Regions from separate parts of the Homo sapiens genome. Here region 2 is linked to region 1. Evidence: fine-mapped expression QTL. A gene starts in region 1. The other region holds a variant in brackets. All regions are shown on one strand. Distances are between the middles of the regions.

What was found. PIP is the estimated chance that this variant, and not a neighbour inherited with it, causes the effect.
Region 2: its variant is the best candidate, but not a certain one, in a credible set for the expression of HDAC1 in gastroesophageal junction (GTEx, PIP 0.83).

Annotation. Positions count from the first base shown.
Region 1 is chr1:32,290,914-32,293,413 of GRCh38, forward strand. It overlaps HDAC1 (histone deacetylase 1), which reads left to right and starts at 1,170. Exons shown (of 14, transcript NM_004964.3): 1 at 1,170-1,305. The coding sequence starts at 1,257. RefSeq lists a silencer at 884-1,293 and enhancers at 1,904-1,963, 2,035-2,500.
Region 2 is chr1:32,723,922-32,726,929 of GRCh38, forward strand. No RefSeq gene overlaps it. Among named protein-coding and RNA genes, the nearest start is that of NHSL3, 16 kb to the right of the region's middle. RefSeq lists enhancers at 370-1,198, 1,307-1,601. The variant C/T (reference allele first, on the strand shown) is at 1,819.

The DNA.
Region 1 (2,500 bases):
GGGCGCTGTGGCTCACGCCCGTAATCTCAGCATATTGGGAGGCCGAGGTGGGCGGATCCTGAGGTCAGGAGTTCGAGACCACCTGGACCAACACGGAGAAACCCAGTCTCTACCAAAAATACAAAATTAGCCGGGCATGGTGGCACATGCTTGTAATCCCAGCTACTCGGGAGGCTGAGGCAGGAGAACCGCTTGAACACAGAGGCAGAGATTGTGGTGAGCCGAGATCACACCATTGCACTCCAGCCTGGGCAACTAGAGCGAAACTCTTGTCTCAAAAAAAAAAAAAAAAAAAAAAACAGGGAAAGAAAAGAAAGGAAACCTGCCCTCCTATCATAGGATAATCCCATTTCCTCCTGTCTAAAGAGACGCCTACTTAGTCATCCTGGGTGACTGCATCAGGGAGGTAGATTTTGGAGTCTGAAAGGCTGGGTTCTGTCACTTTGTTACAGTGCCTCTGGTGCAAAGAAAGCATTTTAAAAACCCTGTACAATTAAAAAATTGAATTTAATTACTTTGTGTAACTTTGAATAATTCACAGAAGTCTGAACTTCTTTATCCTGTCCTGTAAAATGGAGGTAAAAAGCCCTTGGCCGAGAGCTGTTTTGAGGAAAAACTGAAATAACATTGGTAAAGTGTCGCACAGTACTTGGCACACAGCAGCCCCTCGACAAACATTAGCTTTCTTTCCCTTTCTTGTCGGTTTCTTCCTCTCCAAACCCGCGTGTTGCTTTTCTTTTTAATTATTTTTCTGTAGCCCTCCTTTGCGGCCACAAACTCGCTTTCTAACCCAGGTTCAGCCCTTTTATTGGCTGAGTGACCTTGTGCAAGTCACTTTTCCCCTGTAGGCCTCGGTTTATTCTCCGTAAAATCAGAAAGTTGGCCTCCGATCTCCAAGCACGCTTTTCACGACGAAGTGGGACTGTTAAGTTTACAGAGCTGCTTTCCTCCCCCGGGACTGATGGTACGGTCCCCGGGCGGCTCCCCACCCATCTGTCGCAGACCTTGGTACAGGCCCAGGGGGCCCTCGGCGGCCTCTCCGGGCTGCCCTTGCCCCCTGCCGAGTTCCGGGCCCGTGTCTGCGCAAGCTGATTGGCTGGAGCGGTGCCCGGGCTGCGCGGCTATAGGTGAGCCCAGGAGGGGACGGGCGGGGCGGGCCGGAGGCCCGCCCCCTCCCCCCTGGGTCGGACGCTGAGCGGAGCCGCGGGCGGGAGGGCGGACGGACCGACTGACGGTAGGGACGGGAGGCGAGCAAGATGGCGCAGACGCAGGGCACCCGGAGGAAAGTCTGTTACTACTACGACGGTGAGCACCGTCCTCGCGGCGGGGGCGGGGCCAGGCCGGGCCGGACCGGGAACCTGGAGGCTGAGGCTGGAGCGCCGATGGGAGGCTGCGGGAGGCTGAGGCGCTGGGGAGAGGCTCGGAGAGGAGGCTGCGAGGGGGAAGTCGAGGCTGAGGGAGGAGGCTGCGAGGAAGGGAGATCGAGGCTGAGACCAAGAGGGGATCGCGTGGGGGAAGCGTGAGGTAATCTTGATGGGAAGATTCTGAGGAAGTCTGATGTGGAGAGTTTGAGTGGGACTCCTAGAGGGGAGGGTGCGTCGGAGCGGGGAGGCTGAATCTGATGGAGACGGCTGCAAGGATACATTTTCTTGCCGAGAACCCAAAGCTCTTCCCTGCCCCGTCCCTTCCTCATCTTTTCTGGGGGAAGAGTCCTGCACGACTGGTTGCCCGCCTCCCCTCCCCCAGCCTCTGAGCGGGGCCTGCGGTTGCTACTGCGACGTGGGGCGCCAGGGGTTGCAAGGAGAAGGATGCAACCTGTTAAAACAGACTTCTCACTTAATCTCTCAAGCAGGTTACTGTGTTCGAGGAAGTGTTGAGGGGCTGGGGCCGTGGGGTTGATCGGGTCACCCTTCCCAGTGACCGAAGTTCTCTCCGTGTCAGAGCTCAGAGTGTTAGGGGAGCACAGAGAAGAGGCACCGAACTCCACCTGAGGAGTCAGCGAAGGAGGGGACATCTTAGTTAGGACCTGAAGAACAGGAGTTCTTAGCCAGGCACAGGGAAGGCAAAGATAACAGCAAGTTTCAGAGGCAAGAGAGAGGACAGGACCTTTGAAAAACAGGCATTTGGCCGGGCGTGGTGGCTCACGCCTGTAATCCCAGCACTTTGGGAGGCCGAGGCTGGTGGATCACCTGAGGTCAGGAGTTCGAGACCAGCCTGGCCAACATGGTGAAACCCCGTCTCTACTAAAAATACAAAATTAGCCGCGCATGGTGGTGTGCGCCTGTAATCCCAGCTACTCTGGAGCCTAAGGCAGGAGAATCCCTTAGAACCCGGGAGGCAGAGGTTGCAGTGAGCTGAGATCGTGCCACTGCACTCCAGCTTGGACAACAGAGCGAGGCTCTGTCTTAAAAAAAAAAAAAAAAAAAGATGTAAATAGGGACCGGACCATGAAGGGCTGGGCATGCTGTCCCAAGGAAGTTGGACTTTATTGAGGGCACTT
Region 2 (3,008 bases), 430 kb after region 1:
TTGCTTGAACTGGGGAGGCGGAGGTTGTAGTGAGCCGAGATTGTGCCATTGCACTGGGCAACAAGAGCAAAACTCCGTCTCAAAAAAAAAAAAAAAAGGCAAAATTAGCCGGGCATGGTGGTGCACACCTGTAATTCCAGCTACTTGGGAGGCTGAGGCAGGAGAATCGCTTGAACCCGGAACGCAGAGGTTGCAGTGAGCTGAGATCGTGCTCCAGCCTGGGCAACAAGAGCAAAACTCTGTCTCAGGAAAAAAAAAAAAAGCCCAGGTGCGGTGGCTCATGCCTGTAATCCCAGCACTTTGGGAGGCCGAGGTGGATGGATCACGAGGTCAGGAGTTCAAGACCAGCCTGGCCAAGGTGGTGAAATCCCATCTCTATTAAAAACACAAAAATTAGCTGGGCGTGGTGGCAGGCTCCTGTAATCCTAGCTCTCGGGAGGCTGAGGCAGAGAATTGCTTGAACCCAGGAGGCGGAGGTTGTAGTGAGCCAAGATCACGCCACTGCACTCCAGCCTGGGTGACAGAGTGAGACTCCGTCTCAAAAAAAAAAAAAAATTACTATTGGGGCTAGTCTGGCCTAGAGAAGAACAGTGATTTGCACGCTCTCCTGTATGATGTATGTGCAATAACCCATCCTGTGGGGAGTGAAGTGACTTGCCCAATGTCACACTGCATGTTGTATAAAAAACCAGCCTGGGCCCCAAGAAGGCTGCTTTGCAGCCTGGGAAGAGGTGACAGGCCCTGGCATGATCTGCCCTGCCCTCTCAGGACCTGAATGCCCCTCTCCACTCAGGACAATGGGAACGCCTCCTGCCAAAGCCACTGCTATTCCTCTCAGTGGGGAGGAGGGAGAAGACAATGAAAGAGGCTGGGGAATGAGGGGTGTGGGGGACTCCAAACAGAGCCAGCAACAAATGGGCAGGGCACAGAGTGGGGCAGGAAGGATGGCCCTCTCTCCACTGGGACTTTGAGAAGGGGCCATTTTGGCAGGAGGATGGGCGCAGTCTGCCTACTGGTATGCTTGAGCCCCTGGACAACTTCATTCACTGTCTCTTTACATCACTCCCTCCTGTGTGCCCAGAGCATAGGACGGGGACACCAATGCACCAGCGCGCCAAATCTGCGTGACCTCGTGCAAGCCACTTAGTCTCCTCACCTGTGAATTGGAGGTGATCGGCCCTACTTCCCAGGGCTGTTCGGAGCATTAAAGGCAATCACAGAAGTGAAGCACCCCAGCTGGAGTGGGCGAGGCAGTCCAGCAAAGGCTAGTTGTTACAGTGGCAGAGGCGCTCCTCTCCCAGACTGCCCCACACAGCTGGCAATGGTGGGGACTGGCCAGGAGAGCTTGTGGGGAGGAGCCCTCTTCCTTCCTGCCCCTTCCAGCTGGGTATCAAGATCTGAGACCAGATGTGTTGGTGAGTGACTCAGCGCTTTCCTGCCTGGAAACTCCTCCCTGCCTGTCTCACCAGGCTGGGCCAGGGAGGGTGAGACAGCAGACTGGGGGTGGGAGTGGCTGGTTCCGAAAAACCTCAGGGGAGCCATGGGGGCAGGAAGGGAGAGGGAAGGAGGGATGAGAATAGTGTGCCTTGGCCTGCAAGATGGGGATGGGATGAAGGAAGTGGGACACTTCCGAGACTGTCAAGGAAGAGCTAGGTTGAGGGTGTCCTTGTCTGTCTAGTCAACCTAAAATGACCAGGTGGGAGGAGGAAAGCTCACCCCTTCCTCTTCCCACCTGCATACATCCTAGCCCCAGTATTTCCAGGCCAGCCCAAACCCATTTGTCTTGCCCTCCTGGGCTGCATACCCACATGACGCTCC[C/T]TTCCTTCCCTTTCCTCTCCTCCTCTTCCCAGCCAACCACCTCCACTTCCCCATCTCCCACTCCACTGGATCTGTTACTAACTCCTTGGTGCCCACTCTCTCTGGAAGGTTGTCCTCTATTGCCTAATCCCTCACCCTGACAGCTTAAGCTGTCAGGGACAGTAAGCATGGTTGACCTGGTCCTTCTGGACCTTCATGGAGCTTTTGTTTTTGAGACGGAGGCTCTCTCTGTCGCCCAGGTTGGAGTGCAATGGTGTGATCTCGGCTCACTGCAACCTCTGCCTCCCAGGTTCAAGCGATTCTCCTGCTTCAGCCTCCCAAGTAGCTGGGATCACAGGTGCGCACCACTTGGCTAATTTTTAAATTTTTAGTAGAGATGGGGTTTCACCATGTTGTCCAGGCTGGTCTTGAACTCCTGACCTCAGGTGATCTGCCCACCTTGGCCTCCCAAAGTGCTGGGATTACAGACCCGAGCCACCATGCCCAGCATCTTCTTGGAACTCTTTTCTTCATCTCAAATATCACCCTGCTGGTTTCCCTTCTATCTTTTGGACAATTCCTTCTCTAATCTCTTCTTCCCACTCTCCCTTTTAAAGGTAGAGTGTTTTGTTTTGTTTTTTGTTTTTTGAGACGGAGTCTCGCTCTGTCGTCCAGGCTGGAGTGCAGGGGCGCGATCTCGGCTCACTGCAAGCTCCGCCTTCCAGGTTCGCGCCATTCTCCTTCCTCAACCTCCCGAGTAGCTGGGACTGCAGGCGCCCACCACCACGCCCGGCTAATTTTTTGTATTATTAGTAGAGACAGGGTTTCACCGTGTTAGCCAGGATGGTCTCGATCTCCTGATCTCGTGATTTGCCCGCCTCGGTCTCCCAAAGTGCTGGGATTACAGGCGTGAGCCACCAGGCCCGGCCTTTTTTTTTTTCTTTTGAGACAGAGTTGCTCTCGTTGCCCAGGCTGGAGTGCAATTGCATGATCTTGGCTCACTACAACCTCCACCTCCCATGTTCAAGCGATTCTCCTGCCTCAGCCTCCCAAATAGCTGGGATTACAGGCATGCGCCACCACATTCAGCTAATTTTTGTATTTTTAATAGAGAGAGGGTTTCACTATGTTGGCCAGGATGGTCTTGAACTCTTGACCTTGTGATCCACCTTCCTGAGACTCCCAAAGTGCTGGGATTACAGGGGTGAGAC